Linked DNA regions of Homo sapiens. The protein of the gene in region 1 interacts with the protein of each later gene in a pairwise test. Each region holds a gene or a part of one and is shown on either strand. Other genes may lie near its edges.

Region 1 (3,500 bases):
TTATTCTTGAACTTTGATATAAACATGAAATAGGAAAATCACTGGGGGACTATAATATAAAGTACTCAAATATAAGAAAAGTAATTGCTATGAGTTCAACCCCCCACCTAAGCCAATTTTTAGTGTTACAGTCTTCTTGCCAATCTCCTAAATATTAAGATCTATACGGTCAAGCATAATTTCTCAGGATTTTCTATATAATGAAAAACTGATTTGAAAAATTAGTTTAAACCAGTTAACACTAAACTTAGTTATATAAACTAATTTAAACTAATTTTTCAAATCAGTTTTTTCAAAGATGTATGTATTTAATAATAGAAATTTGCAGGTAAACATTATTTGTAGTCAAAGTTGAGTATCATGCAAATGTTATTTTACATGAAAATAAGCATATGAACATACTTTATTTTCCTAGGCTGGATTCTGCTTTTATTTCTTTAACTTTAATAAACATGGTTTCATCATAAACAATAAGGTTAAATTTGTGCCTATCTGAATTTTCATAAAGTCTGAATTCTTAACAATTCTAATGTAGCATGTAAGAAAATGAGTTTTTACTGAATTTAAAATATCAAACAAAAAGTGACAAAACCTTTTGGAGGATGGAGTTTGTGGCCGGTTTTCTCACACCACCCAACTGGGTGGATATCCAGAGCGTCTGCATTCACCCAGAAGTCATAGCAATCAGAATACCCATCAAAGTGAAGCTTTATCCGGTATCCACAAACCTGAAACAGGTAAAATAGGTTGAATTATTTTTTTTAACTCAGAATATTCATATATATATATATATACACAAAAATAAACATGGACACCAGGCATGATATAGTCTTAATGTTAATCAAACCACCCACATTAACAGTAATAAAACAACTAAACAAATAACCAGAATCTAAAGACAAAAGCTATTAAAGTGGGAAGAGCTGAGCTGTGGCATTCTGGCAACATTCTCAGTTACATTACAACCACACGGATAGGGGGCAAAGCATAATATCCCACAATTGCAGGTCCTTTCTCCACTCCCTATGTTGTACCAAGATGTGTCCCCAGGGTAAGCTGGAAGGCACACCAGCACAGCACACTCAGCTCTAGCATGGCCCCAGAGTGGACAGTCTGCCCTGCACTGAAGGCTGCAGACCACAGCTGGTGCATATGCACAGAAGTCAAGCTTTTTTTCTCCACCAAAGCTGGGTTGGAAGAAAGAAAGAAAAGCGTCTCTCCTAGTTTATTACTTGGATGAGACAGGCTCCTAAGAATGCTAGTAAGAATGTACTCTGTATAACACATGCCATACATATGCCTACAGGGCCCCACTTAGAGACATTCTGATTTAGAAGGTCATATAGGCTTACGAGACCTGAGTTGGATCATACCCTGCCCTGGATTCTTAGAGAGAGGGTTCAGCCCCTGAGACTTCTTCCCACTAACACAAGAAGATGTGTTCAAGTAGAAACACGTATCACGCCAGACCTCTACCCGCTCCAGGAGTGTCTGTCCTGCAGAACCCTGAATGATGAACTTAGACCAGAGTGCAGAGCCAGGGCAATTAATCCTCAAATAGTGAGGTAGCTGTACAGTTACTGTCATGGAAAGTTCTCTAAAACATATAGTTAAAATTCAAGTGGTAGAACACATAACACAGAATGAGTTAAGTTTATGAGAAAATTAGACATGTGGGGGTCCACATGTATTTATGGGTATATGATTATGTATACATATGTGTATTATGTGTATATACATAAGTATATGCATTTATATACATACATTAATATACACACATATGCATACATATGTAAACACATAGTAAAAAGAAGTCCGGAGGTATATTTGCCAAAATGTTAATAATGATTTCTTCTAGGAAGTGGTAGTGAAAAGGAAGGGGCAAAATGGGAATGATGGACTTTTCATATTTTCTTTTATGTATCAGCATTTTTTCAATTAGAATGTATTGATATACCACATACATCAAATTTACAACTAAGCTGACTCCCCCCAGAGAGAACAGAGTCTCTCCATACAGCTGAGACTGGAATCCCTGGGAAATACAATCTCTCAGGTAAAGCAGGAGCTACCCCCACTCCCTACAGCCACCCCATGCAAAGAAGGCTGCTTCTCTCCTCTCTCTCACAGTCAGCTATATCTGGCCGATCCTAAGAGCTCAGCCCTATAGTAATTTACAGCCTCTAGTTCCTTGTGGGCACACCGTTCTGAGCTTCTGCTCCCTTGAGCCAAGCTCTCTCTGTTCTCCCCATAGTCTCTATCTCAGGCTCACCGGAAAGCTATGCTTTGAGAAACAATCTCCTACATCCTCACCCTCCTTGCCCACAGTCATACCTAGCTCGTCCTTCTCAAGCCTTTCCCCAAGGGTGCTCATGTTCCCAACTCTACCTCCCATAGACACAGGACGGGTTGCTGCCTCCCACCACACCATGGATCCTAGGCCAGTTCTCCCCTGCCGAGGCTCGAGCCATATGGCTGAAGCAACTCTCCTCCTCTTCTTCCCCCATGCTAACCACCCAAACACTTAGCCCTGGCTTATTCTCTTCCTTTCCATCTGAGTACTTTCGTCATCCATATGGATGACTTATCCAATACCCTGGCATTTTGACTCCCTTCCTCTCTACTTCAAGCCCTCACTCCCATGAATCTAGTCCCCAACAAGAACTGCTCTGCTTCTTAGTATTAAATTTAAAAATCCAACCCTGGGACACATACTCCTATTCCAGTCTGCAAACCCAGTTACCCCCAGATGCCTCTTCCTCAATCTCAACAGAAACTCTAGTCTCACACTGATCCTTTTACTTCCTCCCTAGCAGCTCTCCTCACCCCAAGCCTTCCTTTCCTAGCAATCATTTAAAAAACATTTTCTTGCCAACATTTTAAAATTTCTGCCCTGATATCCTTTGCAAAATATTTGCCTGGTGACATTCTATCATTTCAGGTATCCATCTTGTCTCCACCTAACCAAGTCTAGTAAATGGTGATGGGAAGGAAAAAATGACATACCGCCAGTCTTCATTATTCACATACTGTATTCCACGTTTGTGAAGTCATCTACTTGCTACAATTTATTTGTAACCCCAAAATAATACTCGCAGTGTTCGTGGACATGCACAGACTGACAACACTTTTGAGTCACTCAACATGCATGTTCCCAGCTGAAGTCAATCAAGAAGGAGCTTTACCTTCCTGTTTCAGTTCTCGTACTGGGAATAAGTGTCTTTTGTGTGGTCCATTTAGTGCCACATATTCTACATTTTTGTGCTTTTCTTGGGTGATGTTACTGTTTAAAATGGCCCCTGACATAGTGCTGAGGTGTTGTTTAGTGTCCCTAAGTGCCAAAAGGTTGTGATGTTGCCTTACAGAGAAGATACTTGTGCTAGATAAGCTTCATCAGGCAGGAGTGATAGTGCTCTTACTTGTGAGTTCAATTTTTAATGAATGAACGATATACATTAAATGAGGTGTCTTTAAACAGAAACACACATAAAACAAGGTTA
Region 2 (3,948 bases), on another chromosome or scaffold:
CAGTGTGGCCCCAGGGCTGCTGGTAGAGGGGTGACCCCAGCGCAGGCTCAGTAAGCCTGGGAGACCAGGCAACGAACAGACCTGCATCTTTCTTTGAGGGTTCAGAGGGGTGGGGGCTCTCAGGCTCAGCAATCCTGCTGCCTGCACAGGGGCTGGAGGTGCTCATGTGAGCACTGCGGCTTGGGAGCCACATCCTGAGAGCCCCCGTGTGGCTGCAGAAGCCATGAAGCCAGGTTCTGTATGTGGCAGCCCAGGTGTGATACGTGATCAACAGCAGGGGCTGGAGAGCTACACCAAATCTGGGCCACTGCCAGCTTTTCTAAATCCAGTTTTATTCAAACACAGCCATGTGGGACAGAGGCTGTATGGCTGGCAAAACCTAAACTATTTGCTACCAGCTCTTGAGAGAAAAGGTTAGCCAACCCCTGATCTACACCATGCCACATTGTAAAATGTATAATGCACACACTGCAGGGCACGCTGAACAGGCCACACAAGGTACTGTCCTGACGGGAGTCGTCCTGTCCTCTCTCCTACTCCGGACACAGCATTTTGGATAAATGAGAGATGCGTGGGGCCCCAAGATGGTAGCCCTGGAAAGTAGGAGCTGGGCAGCGGTGGGGGATGGGGTGGGGGCTGTAACTGCTCTGCCTCGGGTTACAGGTGGAGAACCTGCTCAGGGACGTGCAGGGCCAGGGTCACCAAGGGAATCAGAGTTCTGGGGGCAGCTCAGCCCTTTGGACTTTCCCTTGACTTCCAGATCGGGGCTCCTCCTTCCCTGCAGGGACCTGGGCCGCACGCAGACCCACCCTGCTTCCATGCCTGCCTGATTTCATTTTCCAAATATTTATGAGTCCCACTGTGTGCCAGACACTGTGCGAGGTTACAGCCGGGAGCTGGAGACCAGGCCCTTCAGGAATGCACACTTCTTGCCAGTGAGACTAGAAGTACATTCACAGGGTCTTTTCTGAGAGCCAGTGCTAAACACTGTGAAGAAAAAGACTGGTGCGCCCAGCAGGGCAGGGCCTGGGAGGACGGTGGAGGTCGAGGAAGGAAGGCCTTGGGAGGAAGTGAACTCACTCCAGCCTGAAGTCAGCTGTGCAAAGATCTAGGGGCAGAGCTCCGGTCCTGGGGAGCAGCTCAAGGTGGAATGGGTGAAGTCAGGCTGCGGAGGAAGGAGCGATGGGGCAAGGAGGACAGATGAGGTTGCAGTGCCGGCAGGAGACATCCTGCAGGCTCCCAGGCCAGCGTGAGGATGTGAGGTTTTCTCCATGTGCATTGAGACTGCAGCATCAGGCGCCAAGCCTCCTCTCCCTCCAGAGGGGCCGCCCCTGGGCTCTGTCCAGCCCTGTGATTCCTGGAAGGCCCTCCTCCGGGAAGAGACCGGTAATGAAAAACAAAGCAAAACAAAACTGGAAGTGCCGCCGACTGAGCACTTAGAGCTCACCAGGCACAAAGTTAAGCATATTACGTTCATTATTTCACTTAATCCTCACAAAAGCCCCCTTGGGGAAGGTACTTCCACCACATCAAAGTCACTGCCCAAGGTCCCTGCTGAGTGATCAGGAAGCTCGGCTCCAAAATAACCATGAGCTGTGGAAAGCTGCACTCAACCAGAGACCAAATCAGAACTCCAGAAGTCAGAGTCCAGCGGGTGTTGCCTGCGCTCCAAATGCCTGATGCCCACCCCATCCCGAGCAGGTCCGTCAGCTTGGCTGGGCTGTCCCACCCTCCAGGCCACACTGGCCAATCCCCCTTCCTTCCTCGGGGTGGGCTGGGTTGGGCAGGTCCCCTAGTTCACCCAGGGCTGCCTGGCCTGTGTTTTGGCAGCCCGGAGGGCTGACGTGTGCAGGGACGCAGGCCGAAGTCAGAGAGTCATCTCAGCTCACAACAGACTCCAGTGGGAACGACGCTGTGCAGAGGGACGATCCCAGCGCATTAGGGGACTACCTCCCCACCTCCTTGGCCTCTGACCCTCTCTGGCCAGGAGATACCAGAGGTGTTCAAATTCCAAAGGAGTGCTCCCCTTGGGCTGCAGAGATCAAGTTTCAGCGTGGCTCGGAACCTCTCTGCTTTCCCACCTGCAAAGAGGCTGACCACACCTCTGCCCTACACGGCCCGCCAGGTGTTGGGGAAACGAGAAAGGAGGGAGATTCCAGGCCGCCTCTCTCTGCGGGCCTGCTCAATAGTTTCCTCTCTGAGATGGGAGCAGTGCCCGACCCTGTTTCCCTTGGCAGCTCCCACCAAGAATCACAAACTCAACTGCTCCAGAGGAACTGGGACCCCAGCGCCCCCCGCCGCGCCCCTGCCCAGGGGGACAGTGGTCCCATCCAGGCCTCCAGACTGCAGACTGGGGCTGAGAAGAGAGGTCCCGGCGGCCACACGAGGCCAGGATCCCGGAAACACCACCAGCGACCGGGTGCGCTGAGACCCCTGCAGTCCCGGGTGGCCCGCGACCCCCTTACCTCCACCAGCTTACATCTGCGCGTTTCCCCGGGGATTCCGCCTCGGACGCTCTGACCCCTGACCGCTCTCCCCAGGCTCCCTGCAGGTTCACCCCGCAAGCCGCCCAGGAGCGCCCTTCCCAGGCCTCTTCTTGGGCTGGAGTCAGCGGCACTGCGCCCCGCCGGCCCAGGAGCCGCCAAGACCGCGCGGCGGGAGAGAGCTCGCTTGTCCGGGGGTGGTGATGGGAGACTCGCCTCATGCGCCTGCCCCGCGACCCGCAGCCCGGCCGGGGGACGGTGGGGGGACTCACCTTCTGCGCCGGCCCCGCGCCCAGCCCTCGAGTCCACACCGCAGTAGCCCGGGTCCCCGCCCGCTCCGCCCGGGTCCCGGCCAGCTCCGCCGGACACGCCCCCGCGGTGGCTCGGCCAATCGGAGCCCGGGAAGCGGGAGGGGCGGGGCTTGGGCGCGGCGCTCGGAGGGCGCCCGAGCTTGTGCGCGCTGCAGGTCCGGGGCTGGGCGGGACTGTCGCCCGTGTTTGACCCCCTGGCCCCGCCCGGCTTCCCTTTCCGCTCGCCGCTGCCCCACGCGGAGCGCGACTGCCGTCACCCGGTGGGACTGCGACCCTGGCCTTGGGCAGGGGTGGGGTGGGGGCGCCCGCGACTGCGAGACCTGCGGGACTTGGCGGGGAAAGGGGCAGTGGGAGGCTTGTGCCTTCTGGTGCCTCCGGCGGGCCTCACAGCACAGTCACCCTCAGCGGTCAATAATCGTAATATGAAAATGCAGCAGCACTTTATAACCTTTTTTTTTTTTTGAGACGGTGTCTCCCTCTGTCGCCCAGGCTGGAGTGCAATGGCGCGGTCACGGCTCACTGCAGCCTGCACAGAAATCATCCTGACCCCAGGAGAATTAGCCCACCAGGACCGGCTAGTTTTTGTATTTTTGTACAGACGGAGGTCTCACTATGTTGCCCAGGCTGGTCTCGAACCCCTTAGCTCAAGCCATCCTCTCGCCTTGACCTCCTAAAGTGCTGGGATTTCAGTAGTGAGCCACCGCACCTGGCCTATTTTAAGCTTTTTATAGTGGAAAATTTCAAACTGAAGGAAAGAGAATAGTCCAGGGGACCCTGGTGCCCGTCACCCAGGTCCAACACTAGCAGCAAGTTATGTCACCCCTGACTCAACCGCACCTGAGCCTCCTGTGCGGCTCAGAAGGAAATTCCCAGGCCTCAGTGCCCGGAGGCCTTCCTGGCCCTCCCTGGCCTCCTCCCCACAGGTCCTCTCAAATGGGCTTCTTCCTGTTCCTTAAAGCCTCAGGCCTTTGCTTCTACCTCCATCAGACCTCAAACTGTCACCTCCTCAGGGAGGCTGCCCTGGCCACCCAAAGCGGTTCCCTGTCTCCACCCCATCTCCCTCCACAGTCACCCGTGTTTGTAATTTTGCAAAGCATCTCCCAACCCAGAGTCCTCTCCTGAGGCCGCTCGTGGGATTCAGGGCTGCCTACCAG
Region 3 (3,500 bases), on another chromosome or scaffold:
AAAATTTCAGAAAATAAGAAACTTTTGAAATAGAAAATACGGGTGCTGAAATTTTAATATTCAACTGGTAAAACTGAAGAAATACCCACAAGGTAAAACCAAGAAATAAACAACAACAGAAAAGATAAGAAAAATATATATCAATTGTGCCTGTTTCCCATTTCTCCAGGCAGAATTTTTTTTTTTTTTTTTTTTTTGGTAAGGAGAAGCAGGAGTAAAGGGGAGTACCTGAAATAGAAATGAATCATGTTAAGAAATAGTAAAATCAAAATTAACTTGGTTAATAAGTTTGATTTTGATAAAAGTAAATAGACATGCTATATAGAACAAATGAATGAGTAATGTAAATAACTTAAAATTGAGAGAAAAGCTCTCTTTTCAGGGCTAGCTACAGCTCTCCCACAAAGGGGCTTTTGCATACCACATAACCTGGGTATGAGAAAAAGTATGGGCAGAGGGCAGTGTTGAGTTTTTGTATCTGTAACTTAAGGTAGTGTTCAAAATGTCCTACAAAGTTCCTTCCAGCTGTAAATTCTTTATATCTAATTCCTACCTCCTTCGTGGAGCCTGTTTTTACTACTCCAGGTACATCAGATTTCTGAAACCAAAAAATGAATGCAATTTAAATGTGGCTAGAATTGACTAGCAAGGCCTAGATCTTTAAGTAATAATAATATATTTTGTAACGATTAATTACATTAAGATACATATTCAAAGTATTTGTATACCCTGGAAGCATAAGTCTGAGGATTATGAGTTCTGGGGGCTCAAGCCAATTCCGTCATTAATAAATCACGTTACTGTGAGCAATCATATAAGCCGCGAGGCTCAGTATCCACATCTGTATAAACAGGCTAAGGAGATAATCTTTAAGATCCTTTCTAGTTCTACATAGTTTATGATTCTAAACAAATATATGACTAAGGGAACTGGTTATTAAATAGACCTCTTAAAATTGGTTGCTGACATTTTGATGCTAGTAAAGGATAAAGGGGAGTTACAAAATACATACAGAATTAAAGCAGAACAGCTTACCCTTCCATTCTTACAGATATAATCAAATAGCTCTCCTCCTGAGACATATTCCATCACCATGAAAATATCAGATGGTGTACTGATGACCTGGTACCTGGTGAGAGAAAACATTGTCTACAAATATTAAAACACATATATTCATTCATTCAATAAATATTTACTAAGCACCTATAGTATACCAGGTACTAGGCTAGGAGCTAGAAAAACTGCAGGAAACAAAAATTCTCTGCTCTCATGGAGTTCATGTTCCAGGAACCAGGAAACAGACACTAAATAAATAAGCAATATCTCAGGTGGTGGAACATGCTATGAAGAAAAATAAAGCAAATGAAGGGGAATCTTTGTATACAGAGTGCTAAAGGAAAGCCTCTAATAAAGTAACATTTGAGCTGAGCCTAAAAGAAGAATGGGAACAAATTATGTAATTATCTAGGAGGAAAGCGAAACTGGGAGAGGGAATAGCAACTGCAAAGGTCCCCAAGTAGAAGCCTGCTTGGCATGTTCGAGGAATATTAGAGAGAAATAGGATGTAGAGTCAAAGGTGTTAACTGCAGGCCAGAAGACACAGAATTTTACAAGCCATGATAAGGCTTTGGCTTTTACTCCAAGGAAGATGAAAAGCTATCGTACGTTTTAAGCAGTCATGTGATCTGGCATATTAAAAGTAAAACTATGGCAGCAATGTGAAGAATTAACTGTCAACAGTAAAGGTAGCCACAGGAGGTTACTTCAGGATTTCATGAGACAGATGGTGGCTGAGACCAGGTTGACAGCAATAAAGGAACTGAGAAGCAATCAAATCCTAGCTTGATTGTGAAGGAAGAAATGAAATGCATGGTAGAAAGTGAAAGAAACAGGGAAGTTAAAAATGGTTCCTAAGTTTTAGCCCTGGGTCATTGGCTGTTAGCCAAGATGGTGAAAACTGTGGGAAGAGCAGGTTTGGGAGAGTAATAAAGAGTTCATTTTGGGCCGGGTTGAGTTTTAAATGTCTTGCGAACATCCAAATGGAAATGTAAAGTCAGCAGTGAGCAAATAAGTCTGGTGTAAGAAGAGATCTTAAAGCAAGAGATGTACATTTAGGGGTGGTCAGCATATGGATGGTATTTAAAACCTAGCACTCAACAAATGAGAAGAGGTAAGAGTGAAACAAGTTTGAGTCAGCCAGTTCAGGAGAAAAACCTAAGCATCTTTAAGTTATTGCCTGCATAACAAAGCAGAAGCTGAGCAGGAAATAGTTATTTGTAGACTCTATAACTGGCAACTGTAAAACAACAGTAAGATTACTGCCCTTTTGAAACCTTGGATTCCTGAAATTTTGTTATCTATATGTTCAGGTATAAGCAGGATGGGGAAAAACCCTTTCTACTACCGCATTCTCACTAGTGAGGCTAACTGACATCATGTGGGCATTTGGAGGTCAAGAGTTTTTACTAGCAGATCACTGTTGGTTTTACAGCAATGGGGCACCAAACATTACCAGAAGAGCATCTTTCCAGGAGACAGGAAAGAATGAGAAGATAACAGCTGATAAGCACAAGGGCAAAACATGAACACAGGCTTAAATGACCATCAATGGGGTTAGAAAAATACATGAATGGGAAGAAACTTTTATTTTTTTTTGGGACAGAGTTTCGCTTTTGTTGCCCAAGCTGGAGTGCAATGGCACGATCTCAGCTCACTGCAACCTCCGCCTCCCAGGTTCAAGCCATTCTCCTGCCTTAGCCTCCCGAGTAGCTGGTATTACAGGCGCCCACCACCATGCCCAGCTAATTTTTGTATTTTTACTGGAGACAGGGTTTCACCATGTTGGCCAGGCTGGTCTCGAACTCCTGACCTCAGGTGATCCGCCTGCCTCAGCCTCCCAAAGTACTGGAATTACAGGTGTGAGCCACCGCACACAGCCTAGGAAGAAACTTTTCAAAACCCTTAGGAAACAAAAAGAAGTGTCAGTCATTTTTCTCACTTGTCACATTAAGTAGGTTAACAAAAAAGATGAAAAGATGACTGGACTATATTTAATATAAACAGAGCTTACAGTTTAATTATATGAGGATGCCTGAAAAGCTTGAGGTTCTGAATTTCTCTGCGGATTTTTCCTACCACATCAAGGCTCCGAATCTTCTGTCGATTGAGTATCTTCACAGCTACTTTATGCCCAGTCAATTCATGTTTGCCAACTGTAAAAGAAGTAATTTAATAAATTAGTACTAAGTATGATTAATAATATATTTACACATATTCTGGCCCGGTGCAGTGGCTCATGCCTGTAATCCCAGCACTTTGGGAGGCCGAGGCGAGTAGATCACTTGAGGTCAGGAGTTCGAAACCAATCTGGCCAACATGGCAAAACCCCATCTCTACTAAAAAATACAAAAATTAATGGCCGGGAGCGGTGGCTCATGCCTGTAATCCCAGCACTTTGGGAGGCCGAGGCGGGCAGATCACCTGAGATCAGGAGTTCGAGA
Region 4 (3,500 bases), on another chromosome or scaffold:
GAAAACAACTGGGTTCTCGTCTGTTTCTGCATTCAGTCTGTTGGGATATCTTGTTTTTGTAAAAGTACATGAGAAAATCCAGCTTAATACAGATAGGTAGTTGGAAAAGGGAGAGGGCCCCCTAGGATTTTGGGACTACACTTAGAACTGCTGAGTTAGGTGATTTCATCTCAAAATTTATGTGATGGTTTTTAATGTTCTAAGTGAAATAAAACTCTTTTTTGAGATCCTCATTCACCTTCCCTTGGTTCCCTTTATTATTTCTAAGTTCTTTTTCCCTCCTTATTTACCCTCATTTCATATGTTGAGTGATGAGAATATGGTTTCTGGAACTGTACTGGTTCTTTTACATTCTTATTTAAAGCCTTTGCCCCTCTTATTAAAGCCTTCCCCGCAACCCCACACCCTGCCCCTCTTCATCTAAGGTAAGAAAAGAGAAATTAAAACCTCAAATTTTATTCCTGGGTCTACAGCCCCTAGTCATTTAGTAGCTGTACAGAAGAAAGTTAGTGGTATTTTATATTTTTATTAACTGTCTATATTTTTTTCTCTCTCTCTCTGAACCAGCTTTCAGTATTTGTTATTGTGAAAGAAGTTAATTCACCTGAAACAGAGGAGGGGCAACCTGAGTTATCAGAAAGTGACTTCCTGGCCTTCCCTTCTTTACTGATCAGGTTAGAGCTTTTGTTTGAAAGCAGTGTTATCACATGCACAGATTATACATATTATGTGATACTATACATCACTGTTTATAGATTTATTACATCTTATTAACTCAACAACAGTGAACCACAATTCTATCTAGTTGGTTGGGGCTCCAGAAATATACTTTGGCCTAGGAAGATCTTTACAGGTTTAGATAAGGATTTGAACCTAAATACTGGAAATGTTTGCATTTTTAGGTTGGTCGAAATACTCTCTTTTAATTTTACTTAAAGAATTTCGGCCGGGCACGGTGCGTCATGCCTGTAATCCCAGCACTTTGGGAGGCTGAGGCAGGTGGATCATGAGGTCAGGAGATTGAGACTATCCTGGCCAACATGGTGAAACCCCGTCTCTACTAAAAATACGAAAATTAGCTGGGGGTGGTGGTGCGCTCCTGTAATCCCAGCTACTCGGGAGGCTGAGGCAGGAGAATCGCTTGAACCTGGGAGGCAGAGGTTTCAGTGAGCCAAGATTGCACCACTGCACTCCAGCCTGGTGATAGAGCAAGACTGTGTCTCAAAAAAAATAATAATAATTTAAAATATTTTTTGAAGTGGCAACATTTATAGGTTTTAAAATGCCAAAGATAAACGAGGGAGTCCACCAAAAGCTTCCTTTCACTCTCATCTACCCAGTTCTACTCCCCAGAGGCATTTTGATCCATTTTTTTTCTCTTCCAGAGAAAATTTATGATTAACAAGCCTATTATACCAGACATATGTTTTTAAAAACTAAATGTTGTCATCTGAAACACACTAATTTTCACTCTGCTTTTCTCACTTAGCATAGCCGTTGTAATTTAGACAGAGACTTCTTGTGATCTTTTTTGGAATTTTAAAGTCTAGGAAAAGATATATTTGTCATTTGTGGTCAAATTAATATTCTTTTTACAGGCTAATTTTACCCAGTCTTTTTTTTTTTTTTTTTTGAGACGGAGTTTTGTTCTTGTTGCCCAGGCTGGAGTGCAATGGCGCGATCTTGGCTCACTGCAACCTCCGCCTCCTGGGTGCAAGCGATTCTCCTGCCTCAGCCTCCTGAGTAGCTGGGATTACAGGCGCCCGCCACCACGCCCGGCTAATTTTTTGTATTTTTAGTAGAGAAGGGGTTTCGCCACGTTGAACAGGCTGGTCTCGAACTCCTGACCTCAGGTGATCCACTCGCTTCAGCCTCCCAAAGTGCTGGGATTACAGGTGTGAGCCACCATGCCTGGCCAATTTTATCCATTCATTACCTTCTATTTAGAATTATAATAAAGGAGATTAATTTGCTTGAGTGTTTCTCCCCAAAATTCCAACTTGCCTTTTTTTCTGGAGCAAATATGTTTTGGGATTGGTGATGATGAGTTAAAATGGAAACAGCAAGAAAATGTGCCCCTTAATATAAAGGAAACGTCGTTGCTTTAGAACAGCACATCTGAATTATTCACATTTATAGAAGTGAGAAAAGGAAGAGAAAAATGCTGAAGGGTATTCACATTTAGCCATGCTGTGGCCACGCTGTCAAAACCTCAGTACCCTTTAAGTTTATCTTATGGTCTAGAGAGAGGAACCCTACACCTTGAACGAGTTTGGCCATTTAAGGTCTTAAAATTTTCTGATCCTTTAAAGGGAAGTGTATATGAACCAAATGATCCATTTTACGTCGCTTTTGGATCTCTTTATAGTGGGGGATCACAGATTTAGAACAAAGAGTTTCAGTTGCAGGGTTTTCAAACTGCTCAAAGCCAACAGCCAGAAACAAGATCACTGAGTAGAATAGATATGTTATTAGTAGAATTGAGAGGCAAAAGTCCTGGGTTCATCTAAGCTCAACAATATATTAACACTGAGTCTTTAGGCAAACCACTTAACCTCTGTTAGCATATTTTTTTTATCTGTAGAAAGGGGAGTTGGGGCTTTATTATCCCTAAAGGTCTTCCCAGAGCTATAATGCTTTTTATAATGGTTATAAAAGTAAGAATGGCATATATCCCCTAAGCCTAAAGAAAACTGGGTGAAGGGCTGCAAGAAGTTAAGGTTAATAAAATAAAACTTTTCTTCAGAAAGCTGGGTGGACACAGAATACTATGCAGCCATATAAAAGAACAAGATCATGTCCTTTGCAGCAACATGGATAGAGCTGGAGGCCGTTATCCTAAGTGAATTAACGCAGGAACAGAAAACCAAATACTGTATATTCTCACTTATAAAGTGGGAGCTCAACATTGCATACACATGGACACAAAGAAGGGAACAATAGACACTGGGGCCTACTTGAGGGTGGAGAGTGGGAGGAGGATGAGGACTGAAAAACTACCTATTGGGTACTATACTCACTACCTGTGAAACAAAATTATCTGTACACTAAATCCCATGACATGCAATTTACCCATGTAACAAACCTGCACATGTACCCCTTGAATGTAAAATAAAGGTTGGAAAGAAAAAATAAAAATAAAGCTGTATGGAAATAATATCAGTAGTGGGAAAGTATAAATTGGAAAATAAAAATACTGGAATGTTCGCAGATGAGTCTTGGCACACTGGTGGGTCACGAATAGCTTGTAGCTGTGTAGATACTAATTTCTTCTTCAGCCTTTGGTGTGACTCTTCAGTTGCCTATGGCTGTGAGCAGCCTGGTCCTTTTACCCCCAGAGTACCTGGAAATGTCATTTTCTATGTGTTTCAGTATACGCTATTAATGTATGTTTTCTGTGTGTGCTGTGATAGCAAAATGGTGGTGAAGCACTGAATTAGACTGTTAGGATGTCGTGTAGCAGTTATTAGCACAAACTTTGAAATCAGACAGGTTCTAAT
Region 5 (3,500 bases), about 110 Mb from region 1:
TTATTGAAATAGAAACTCGGTATGTTATCCCTCTATAATAATCCCCACTCTGTAAGTTTCCTGTCCCCAAAGGCAGTTGTTGCTTTTTAGTACCTTCTGTGGTATAACTTTTCTTTGTGAAAGATACATTTTCCTCGTCACTTTCTGAAGCCAAAGAGAGGGTCAGGGTAGGAAGAAGGAGACACTATTAGTGGTTTCCTATATTTACTGCTTTCCCAGTTATCTTCCATTGTTAAGTCCCATGAACAATGATTAGTAGAAAAAATGCTTTTTAGCAATCGTGAATACAGTCTCTGAAACATTATTTTTAAACTGCTAACAAGAATGAAAATATGCATTAAACCACGTACTTAGTACCTCAAAGAATTCAGGGAAGATTCCCCTTTTTAAAAAACAAAATTGTGAAATCTACCTTCTTTACCTTGCTTTCACCACGTTTTACCTTGCTTTTACCACCTTTCAGGTGGCTTCATGGGAATTTATCAGGGATCTGGTGAGCATAGGCAATTGATTTTGACTCATCCTAGTTACAGCTGTTAGTAGGAAGTAGATGACTAAAAGGGAATTGAAGTTGGCTAGCTTGGGAAAGTAGATGTAAACTGGTCCTACAAATGGAATATTTGTAAAATCAGGTTAACTTAGGAAAACCAGCCAGAAAATTAACTATGAGTACTTGAAGCTATTTGCCAAATGGGTCCAAATCCCTAGGAAAGAGGTTAAAGGTATGGATGATATATCTTTGCAGATGGCATTAAAGACAGAAGAGTTAAAGGAAAACTACTGCTTTATATATTTCTGAGAAACCACAATAAAAGCTTTCACCCCGTCTGTCAATCTCCAGGTAATGTTATTTATGCACGTCTAGGCTTAGAGTATTATTTTCTGTTTTCAAGTTAGCTTTACACAGTATAACATTAATCTCAGAATCCATTCTTCCAAGTAATACACAAGGTGGCGATTTATAGAAAAACAAAAAATCCTTTCCTGTTCACAAGGTGGAGTTCTTCAGCCCACAGTGCCATATTTAAGGGTGCTTTGTTTCAGAGGATGATTAGAGTGGCGCCCTTGGTACTGATTATAGTGGAGCTACCTGTAGTGCCCAAGTCTGGGCACTGCATTATATTAAAACTTCCATTTTGGGGTATGTAGTGACTAAAAATTGTCTCCCAGCTTAAACTTGGCATCAACCATATATCTCAGCAGAAGCAAGATTATTGAGTATAGAACCACAGGAACCCGGCACTTTTCTTTTTATAATTGTACAGGAAAAGAGACCCTGCTGAAATAGCACCTATGGTTCTCCATTCTTAGATGAAAATTTCAAGCACTGAGGGCTCTTTCCCAAAGTAGAATCAGTAGGTTGCTATGACTGTGACAGGACATAGTCTCTTACATTATTAAATCCCAAATTTTCTAGAATAAAATAATTTCAGCTTCTTTTTAGAAGCAGCAGCAGAAAATGATGAAGCCTTGTCTGCTCCATTGAGTAGCACTTCTGACTATGGTTTCTCTGGAGTTCTTACATTTCCAACAGTTCACCAACTAAGATGGAATTTGTCTAATGCATGTCTCTGACATGGTGAAGATTGAGAGTTCAGGTCTAACAAAAGCCGCTAAGCATAAACTGCACCCAAAAGTTGGCAGGTCTGTGGAATCATGGACGGAGTGGAACTCAGGCAAAAAAGTGAGGATGATGTGGCCTTGAATTGTCACAATTCAAGGCATATGCTTGGCAGTTCAACACCACTATCTCTATATAGGCGTGTCTTACTGAAATGTCCCTATTTTACCCCTAGGATGGCCATGTTTTATATATTTAAAAGCCCAAATTAATTGGGCATAAATAATTAATTACAGATCACTTAAAGACTTTTAACAGTTCTCTTCATATATGTAAACAAAGGGACAATGTGCACCTGGCCTTACACTATTTCACTAAGTCAGAAAAAAATTAACATTTGTATAATAAATATGAATTGTACTGGGTGTCTACTTTTTGCCAGGCACTGTGCTAAATAGTTCACATGCATTATCATATTTAACTCTTCAAAAGAACCTTAAAGGTGACACTGTTTTTGTCCCTATGTTACAGAGGAAGAAACTGAGTTGAGAGATTAAGTTATTTGCCAATGAACATACAATTTGTAAATAATAGATGCTTTACAGCTGGTAAGGTAGTACTCATATTTTTACCCCCATTGAAAAAAAGGTGAAGAAGTTGCTTCTGGTTAAGTCCTTAGATATTCTTGAGACAGAACTTGGGATCAGAACCAGATAGGTCTGCAACTCTGGCCACCTGAAGACTTTTCAACCTCTTCTTGGACACAGAGTGTTTAGGTGGTCTTTGTTCAGCCAATCACTTAGCTTTCCCCATCCTGTCTTTCCTGCTTAGGGAAAGAATATCAACAAAATTCAAAATTCGAAGACTTACATGGAAGTCTAATATAATTTCGATAAGAAAAACAATAAATCAAACTTTATATTCAGTGCTTAAGACTTTGTATGCATTGACTAGATAAATTTCCTACACCCTCCCAGAAGAAACAGCTCCTTTTTTGAGACGGAATCTCGCTCTGCCGCCAGGCTAGAGTGCAGTGGCGGGATCTCAGCTCACTGCAACCTCCGCTTCCCAGGGTCAAGCGATTTTCCTGCCTCAGCCTCCTGAGTAGCTGGGATTACAGGCGCGCACCACCACACCCAGCTAATTTTTGTATTTTTAGTAGAGACGGGGTTTCACCATGTTGGCCAGGATGGTCTGGATCTCTTGACCGCGTGATCCGCCCCCCTCGGCTTCCCAAAGTACCGGGATTACAGGCATGAGCCACAGCGCCCGGCCAGTAGAAATAGCTCTTAAAAGTGTAGATAACCGGCCAGGCGTGGTGGCTCACGCCTGTAATCTCAGCTACTCAGGAGGCTGAGGCAGGAGAATGCTTGAACTCGGGAGGCGGAGGTTGCAGTGAGCCGAGATCGTGCCATTGCACTCCAGCCTGGGCGACAGAATGAGACTCCGTCTCAAAAAAAAAAAAAAAAAAAATGCAGATAACCAATGATTCAGCATACATTGCAATCATATAAAAAATGCTTCTGAATATGTATATGAGTAACATTTATATTCCTGTAATGAAAAACCTTTTGTGTGCACATAAACTCAAAAGGATATTATTATTCCTGGAATAATAATTTCATGTCAAGGAGAATAAAGTTTTGAAATAACTTGGAAGATGGTGAGGGTAATTTAGTATACTTTAAATACTTAAATACAATGAACTAGATATAATAAACCTGGCTTGAAAGATAGTCTTAGGGACCTGGCCCAACAAACACTGTTAAAATTTTTTAAAAATCAACTTGAAGCTCTCATAATTTCCCATTATCAAAACTACCCCCTGCAAATCTGTGAATCTAATCCAAGAAGTATGTCAATAGCTGGTTGTTTAAGGTTAGGTTTATGAAATAGTAACAGAACTGTGCAGGGGTCAAATATGCTTAAAATATGTCCA
Region 6 (3,500 bases), on another chromosome or scaffold:
CTTTTTCTGGCTGGCAGCAGAATGAGAAGTTTGAAAGATCTAAAGTGTAAGAAAGACTAGTCATATCACTGCTTTGAAAACAGAAAGGACCATGAGCCAAGGATTGCAGGTGGCCTCTAGAAGCTGAGACTGACTCCTGGACGACAGGCAGCAAGGAAACAGGGACCTCAACCACAGAGAACCGGATTTTGCCAATAACGTGAATAAGGCTGAAATCTAATTCTCCCCCAGAGATGCTAGTAAGGAATACAGCCCTGTTGACAATTTAATTCTGGCTTTGTGGGACCCTGCACAGAGGACCCAGCCAAGCCCATCTGGATTTCTGACCTATACAGCTAGGAGATAATGGATATTGTTTTAAGCCTCTGAGTTTGTGGTAATTTGCTATGCAGTTTCTTTCACTCAACCTTGTTTGTGAAAATCACCCTTGCAGTGCTGGCGTGTAGCAGCAGTTCATTCCTCCTCTGTACTGTATAGTATTCCACAGTCTGAACACATCATGATTTACTCATCCATTCGACTATGATGAACATTTGGGTTGTTTCCAGGTTTTGGTTACTACAGAGTTGATATGAACATTCTTATACCTTTCTTTTAGTTAATATTTATACATTTCTTATATACAGCAAGAGGCAGAAAGAGATAGAGACAGGCATGGAACTGCTATGGCATAGGCAATGCATATGTTCTGCTTTAACAGATACTGCCAGTTTCCCCAGTGGCTGTGTCCATTTACACCTTCACCAACAGTAAATCAGTGTTCTCACTATTCCATGTCCTACCATCACTTAGTATCACCCTACCATTCCGGTGGGTACACAGTGAGATCACATTGTGCTTTTAATTTGCATTTCCCTGTTTACTAATGAAGTGGGACAACTTTTCATATGTTTACTGGCCATTGGGAGGCCCTCTTTTTGGAAGTCACTCACCCATTATCCTGAGGAGTTGCTTATCTTTCCATGTTATCCTTAACAAAAAAGTTTTCTAAAAAATTTAAGTATATAAATATTAGGAAAAAAATGTTTGCAGATTTGGTGAAAGGAGTACACTGTTAAGATAAAATTATAAATATCTGATAAAGTCGATTACATTAAAATTTAAAACTTCTAAGAGCTACCACAAAAGACAAGTGACAGATGAGAAAAAGTATCTGCAATATTAAGAGAAGACTGTGCATCCGAAATACATAATATATAAAGAAGACCTAAATGTCTATCAAAAAAAAAAAGAAAAAGAATCCAACAGAAAAATGGAGCAACAACATAGTCAGGAAGGGAAACAGAAGAGGAAATACAAATGAGCATTTTGTCATACAAAAACCTATAAGATGATACTATTTTCACCTATAAAACTAGCAAAAATCTAAAAATGTGGGTGAGACTGTTAATAAAAGGGTATTTTTATATACGGTTGGAGAAAATGAAAATTGGTAGTCTTTTCTGGAGAGCAATTTGATAGTATCCATCAACATGTTAAATGTGCATACTCTTAGACACAACAATTCCATTTCAAAGCAGCATACAAAAATATGCCTTTGTATACAAGTCTATATGTGCAAAAATATTTACTACAGCACCGCTCACTGTACAAGAAATTTTAAAACAATCCAAACACCCCTTGACTTGGGAATATTATCACATAGCCCTACCACAGAATAGTAAGCCAATAAAACCAAGGAGGCAAACTCTGTGTCTACTCACAAATAAAGACATCTGTGCTGAACAATATACAATATATATCCCATTTTTGTAAAAACAATTAACAAAATTCCAAATATTTAGGTACATACAGATGTACAGACATGATTAAAAGTGGGTGCATCTGGGGATGGAGCAGTAGCCTGCTGCTTTCTATTTGCTCTTTGAACCATTAGCATGTATGAACTCTGATGAAAAACTAACAAAAATGTCATTCACCCAAGAAAAATTTTTACTGAGCACTTATTATGTGTCAGGGAACTGGTAAATACACCAATCAATAACATATCAGGGAGTGCTAAGTACTTTGAAGGAAAACAATACAAGATAAACAGTACAAGTGAAACCAAGAAATGCTGACAGACAAGTCATAGCAGGTCCCTGGGGGAGCTAACAATCAGAACTGAGAACTCAAAGGATTGAGTGTGAAGAACACAGAAGTAGAAATGTGGGGCCACACTGGCAGGTTCCAGGAACAGTTAGGGGGCCACCATGGCTACAGCAGAGTGAGCAAAAGAATGAGCATAAATGAGTGCTGAGAGGGAGTAGGGCTGTCCTGTGGAAAGGACACCTCTGTATTCCACCCTTGGTGACAGGGAAACCACTGGGGTCTTGAGCAGAAAAGCGGAATCATCTGACATGTTTTAAAAGCACTACTCTGGCAGCTTAAGCAGAAGAAAGAGCTAGAATAAAGGTTCTGAGGCAGGGCCATTCCCAGCATGCTCTAAGTCTGGCAAGAAGTCCAAGTGTGGCCAAGCGAGGAAGTAAGAGAAGAACAGAGAGACTGGACACGGTGGCTCATACCTGTAATCCCAGCACTTTGGGAGGCCAAGGTGGGCAGATCACCCGAGGCCAGGAGTTCGAGATCAACCTGGCCAAAATGGCAAAACCCCGTCTCTACCAAAAAATTTAGCTGGGCATGGTAGCACGTGCCTGTGATCCCAGCTATTCAGGAAGCTGAGGCACAAGAATCGCTTGAGCCCGGGAGACAGAGGTTGCAGTGAGCTGAGATCACAACACTGTACTCCAGCCTGGGCAACAGAGTGAGACTCTGTCTCAGAAAAAAAAAAAAAGAGAGAAGTAACAGAGAGTACCAGGATGTATAGGAACTTGTCAGCCACTCAAAGAACTTGGACTTTTCCTCGGAATGTGATAAGAAACCATTCAAAGATTTTGGGCAGAATAATGGAATGACCTGATTGAGATTTCAAAGGATTAATCTGACCACTGTGCTGGAAAGACTTTAGGAATTCCAGCAAGGGCAGAAGCAAGACAGTGAATTAGGGTATTATTATGGGTTAAACAGTGTCCCCAAAAAAGATACATTTAAGTTTTAACCCCTTATACTAGCGAATGTGACCTTACGTGGAAGTAAGGTATTATGGATTGAATTCTGTCTCCCCAACAAAAAATAAGTTGGACTACTAACCCCCAGTAGCTCAGAATGTGACTTTATTTGGAGATAAGGTCTTTCAAAAGGAGAAATTTGGACACATGCATGCACACATGTGAAGATGAAGGCGGAGATCACAGTGATGCTTCTACACATCAACATGCCAAAGACTGTCCGCGAACACCAAAGCTAAGAGAGGAGGCTAGAACAGATTTTCCCTCACAGCTCTCAGAAGGAATCGACCCTGATTCTGGGGCTCATCACGGACTTCTGGCCTCCAGAACCATGAGACAGTCCATTTCAGTTGTTAAAGCCACCCAGTTTGTGGTAATTTTATTATGGCATCCCTAAAAACTAATAGACAGTATTCCCACAGTCCTGGCAAGAGACAAAGGTGGCCTGGACCA
Region 7 (3,500 bases), on another chromosome or scaffold:
GGTCATGTCAGCAGGTAGTAAAGCCCCAACAAGCTAGTCCCTGGAAATCTAGGAAGAGGTGGCCAGAACATGGAGACAAGCACTCAGGTCCTGGCCTCAGCATCCTTTTCCTTCAACTCCCAGGAACCTGGAAGGCCTTGCTGCAGCTGCAGTTCTCAAACAGCTCCGTCTTGGGGTGACTCACTGCAAGTATGGCCTCTCCCTGCCGAGGAGCACAAATGAAATTCATTCTAGTCCCAGAAACTGCCACACAATTTCGTAAAATTTGCTTTTTAGGGCCCTTGGCATGTAATTTCATTTATTCATATAAGTCTAGATCAGGGTTCAGTGACAAGGGTCAGCATAGAGCAGGGTTGCAGACTGGTTCAAGGAGGCTTCTGGGTAGGCCCCTCCAGGAGGGATTTGGAGGAGGCTGCCCTGTGGGTGTGGCAGGAGCCACATCTTGTGGAAACTGGGTAGATGGGTGTGTGGCCCCACTCTGAGTGAATGCACCTGGCCCACATGGCTGGGCGCTGCAGCCTGCACTCCACTTCCAGGTGCTGACATATCCTCCCCAGCCATGGTCCTGGGCCTGCTGTGTCCTCACCTCAAGGGCCTCCCGGCTCAGCCTCTGCCCCAGCTCCTGCTCTCTCCTCCCTTGTTCCCAGCTCATCTTGCACTAGGCCACTTCCTAGCCTGCAGGCTGCCTATGGATCTCCTGTTAGCTAAGCAACTTGCCACTCAGGGCCCCCCACACACCTGCATACACCCAAAGGAGAGCAGGTCACTTCCCCAAGGAGCTGTGGCTTCATGGCAGCCACAACAAGAAAGGGGTCCTGGAATCCTGTTCCCAGTAAGGGAGCGCTGGCTCCCAGCACTAGAGTGGATCCACATGGGGCCCTCACTAGGGCAAGAGGGCAGCCCTCCTTCCACAGGAGCCAAGAGCATAGTGCAGGGGCAAGGCAGGGCAGAAGGGGCAGGAGCCCACCCCAGGCCTCCAGGATTCCCCTGGAAGGGGCCAGCCTGGAGGCCTTCACAGCCCTTCCCAATGTGACTGGGTGACCCCAGGTGGAGGCAGGAGTTGACAGCATGGATAGAGACAGGTAAGGCCACTGACCTACATCTGGGGGTCTGCTAAGCCATGGGCTGCTCAAGGGGCTGAAGCCAGCAGTGGTGGCCGGGCCAGCAAGGTGTGTGTGGTGGGTAGCACTGCTGTGGCTTTAATGGAGGCTTGTCTGTGACAGAATACTCAGCAAGGGACACGGGGGACTTTGCTGGCTTCTTCCCGGCCGAGCCCTGACATGCACACAGGTGGACTGGGATCCTTCAGCCCCTGTGAAAACCAGGCCTGGCCCAGCACGACCGACCTGGGAGCTGACCTCAGGGCCCTTCACTCCAAAATTCACCTCAAGTCAGGTGAGACCCATACATCATGGGTCCCCACTCACAAGTTCCAGGTGGGAAGAGGAGCCCCTTACATGGATCTCAGTGAGGGTGGGTGGGACAGGAGCAGCCCAGGCAGATTCGCTGGTGCAGCGCAAGTCTGCTAAGCCTCCTCCCGCATGTTGGAGGAGCCTTGGTGACAGGCCCCAGTGCCTGAGTCCACAACACGCCCAGGCCACAGAAGCCAGGCCAAGCCCCACTGGGTGGGAGGCCCAAAGTCTCTCCCCACTTCTGGGTGGTGAGCCCATCACTGAGCCGTGGCCTCGCATCCACACTACACCAGGAGAGGGTGATGACAGGAGGGGGTCTGCTTCATCATCCGCTCCCTGTGGGACCTGTGTCTTCAGTGAATTAATGAGTTTGGGGCCCCACATCCCCTCAGCTCTCTTTGGAGGCTCTGGGCACCCTGACCCTTGGCCTGGCAGGTGCACCCACTGCCATAGGCATGCGCATAGCCGGTAGTCTTCTCAGTAGGCAGGGCAGGCAGGCACGGCGATTCTTCACAATGGGCAGGCGCCACAGGGCCTCAGATGTCGGCGCCCAGCTCTGCGCACTGCTTGTCTGAGATGTGGGAGGCCAGGGAGTCTATGATGTCCAGCAGCAGCTGCTGGCTCAGCGACCGCAGGGTGGGCAACTTGGAGACCTGTAAGGCAAGCAGGCCGGAAGGAGATGGGACCAGATCCACCTAAGGGCCATGGTGGGCAGTGGAGCCCTGTGGGGCCTACCCTGCTCAGGGCTCAGGCTGGTCCCAAGGATGAAGCAAGGTGCGGCCAGTGATGGGCTGCTCTGCTTCTCTCACCCCCAGGGCCCACCACTGCAGGGGACCACAGAGCCTGGGCACCCTCCCTGCCTGGGCATGGCCACTGCCAAGGGGAAGCGAGTCCTGAAGGGGAGGCCAGAGCCCTGACCTTGGTGAACTGGTGCACAATGATGTGCAGGCAGTGCCGCTTCATGTCCAGTGCCTGCGTTTTGTCAGCTGCCTCCAGGATCTGCAATGGCAGGGACCTTGAGGCGCTGCCCCTTTCACCCACTCAGTGGGAGCTGCAGCCATGTGCACGGGGCTGGGGGGCTACCTGCAGCACGTTCTGCACCGTCACGTTCATCTCCAGGTTCTGCTTGCAGTACGCCTGCAGCCGGTTGTTGTAGAAGCCGTAGTAGTAGGGGGCCGCAAACAAGTAGCTGGGGCCTGGTTAAGGAGCTGACTAAAGGAAGCTGGTCCGCCCGCACCCTCCCAGGGAAGGACAGGGAAGGGCGCAGCTGGAGCCCCAAGCCCCCACGCCAGCATGCTCTCCAAATGGATTCTGAACTACTTAGTGGGTCAAAGGCCCCATTCAGGATCCAAAGAAAACCATGAATCCCCTCCCGAGAAAAATAGTGTCTGTACATCTGTAGCGCTGTTCCATGGCCTTGCAGGCCTAACAGGCATCCTGACCCTCCATGTTCAGACCCCTACTGAAGTGACATAAGGAGTACCTCCATGTCTGTGCTCAACTGTCACACAAAGCAATGACCCACCCCGTCCTCTGGGCAGTTGTGAGGGTCAGGAACCCACTGGTTCCTCCTGGCTGCAAACCCCTCCTTGCCAGCTGCCAACTGCTTCAGAGAGCACCAGGCCCAGCCCCAGGCACCAGCAAACCCTCTGGAGGGAGGCGCTGGGCCCAGATCACCTAGCTGGGGCAGGAGAGCGGGCCTCAAAGCCACCTGAGGTGGGTGCCAGGACCCCTTGGTGGGGACCTGGGAGTTCACTGGGGAGTGAGGATGCAGCGAGTCCTCGGGCGGCATGTTGACCTCGCCGTAGTAGATGTAGCGCAGCATGGACTCGAAGGCCTGCCTGCTGGGCACCATCTCCCCGATGGAGATGTTCACCTGCCCATCTTCGGGCATGAAGGACCGGAACATGGCTTCAAAGTAGCTGCAGACAACGAGCGGTAGGCACCTGGCCGTCAGCAGAACGAAGACACCATCCAGGCCCACCCTCCCCTCCTGTCCAGCCCCCACCCACCTGGAGCGGGCGGCCAGGATAGCCTTGTGGGCTGGCCGTGGGTGCCCGTCAAGCAACAGAGTGATGTCACAGAATT

What was found.
Region 2: the proteins of L3MBTL3 (region 1) and PLEKHF1 interact in binary tests that used the Homo sapiens proteins (3 or more experiments, as listed by UniProt).
Region 3: the proteins of L3MBTL3 (region 1) and PRKAA1 interact in binary tests that used the Homo sapiens proteins (3 or more experiments, as listed by UniProt).
Region 4: the proteins of L3MBTL3 (region 1) and ZCWPW1 interact in binary tests that used the Homo sapiens proteins (3 or more experiments, as listed by UniProt).
Region 5: the proteins of L3MBTL3 (region 1) and E2F3 interact in binary tests that used the Homo sapiens proteins (3 or more experiments, as listed by UniProt).
Region 6: the proteins of L3MBTL3 (region 1) and VBP1 interact in binary tests that used the Homo sapiens proteins (3 or more experiments, as listed by UniProt).
Region 7: the proteins of L3MBTL3 (region 1) and LZTR1 interact in a two-hybrid assay, tested with the Homo sapiens proteins (one large-scale study listed by BioGRID and IntAct).

What each region holds. Positions count from the first base shown.
Region 1 is NC_000006.12:130,063,581-130,067,080, reverse strand, and holds part of L3MBTL3 (lethal(3)malignant brain tumor-like protein 3), read right to left. Parts: intron 729-3,500; coding exon 593-728; intron 1-592. UniProt on the Homo sapiens protein: Is a negative regulator of Notch target genes expression, required for RBPJ-mediated transcriptional repression. It recruits KDM1A to Notch-responsive elements and promotes KDM1A-mediated H3K4me demethylation.
Region 2 is NC_000019.10:29,664,313-29,668,260, reverse strand, and holds the start of PLEKHF1 (pleckstrin homology domain-containing family F member 1), read right to left. Parts: upstream 2,801-3,948; 5' UTR 2,756-2,800; exon of another isoform or gene 2,705-2,755; coding exon of another isoform or gene 2,466-2,704; intron 2,443-2,465; exon of another isoform or gene 1,081-2,442; intron 1-1,080. UniProt on the Homo sapiens protein: May induce apoptosis through the lysosomal-mitochondrial pathway. Translocates to the lysosome initiating the permeabilization of lysosomal membrane (LMP) and resulting in the release of CTSD and CTSL to the cytoplasm.
Region 3 is NC_000005.10:40,774,375-40,777,874, forward strand, and holds part of PRKAA1 (5'-AMP-activated protein kinase catalytic subunit alpha-1), read right to left. Parts: intron 3,213-3,500; coding exon 3,071-3,212; intron 1,130-3,070; coding exon 1,036-1,129; intron 599-1,035; coding exon of another isoform or gene 554-598; intron 1-553. UniProt on the Homo sapiens protein: Catalytic subunit of AMP-activated protein kinase (AMPK), an energy sensor protein kinase that plays a key role in regulating cellular energy metabolism.
Region 4 is NC_000007.14:100,422,204-100,425,703, reverse strand, and holds part of ZCWPW1 (zinc finger CW-type PWWP domain protein 1), read left to right. Parts: intron 1-567; 5' UTR 568-674; intron 675-3,500. UniProt on the Homo sapiens protein: Dual histone methylation reader specific for PRDM9-catalyzed histone marks (H3K4me3 and H3K36me3). Facilitates the repair of PRDM9-induced meiotic double-strand breaks (DSBs). Essential for male fertility and spermatogenesis.
Region 5 is NC_000006.12:20,404,879-20,408,378, reverse strand, and holds part of E2F3 (transcription factor E2F3), read right to left. Parts: intron 1-3,500.
Region 6 is NC_000023.11:155,229,960-155,233,459, reverse strand, and holds part of VBP1 (prefoldin subunit 3), read right to left. Parts: intron 1-3,500. UniProt on the Homo sapiens protein: Binds specifically to cytosolic chaperonin (c-CPN) and transfers target proteins to it. Binds to nascent polypeptide chain and promotes folding in an environment in which there are many competing pathways for nonnative proteins.
Region 7 is NC_000022.11:20,995,797-20,999,296, reverse strand, and holds the end of LZTR1 (leucine-zipper-like transcriptional regulator 1), read right to left. Parts: coding exon 3,425-3,500; intron 3,335-3,424; coding exon 3,185-3,334; intron 2,602-3,184; coding exon 2,496-2,601; intron 2,412-2,495; coding exon 2,331-2,411; intron 2,066-2,330; coding exon 1,949-2,065; 3' UTR 265-1,948; downstream 1-264. UniProt on the Homo sapiens protein: Substrate-specific adapter of a BCR (BTB-CUL3-RBX1) E3 ubiquitin-protein ligase complex that mediates ubiquitination of Ras (K-Ras/KRAS, N-Ras/NRAS and H-Ras/HRAS).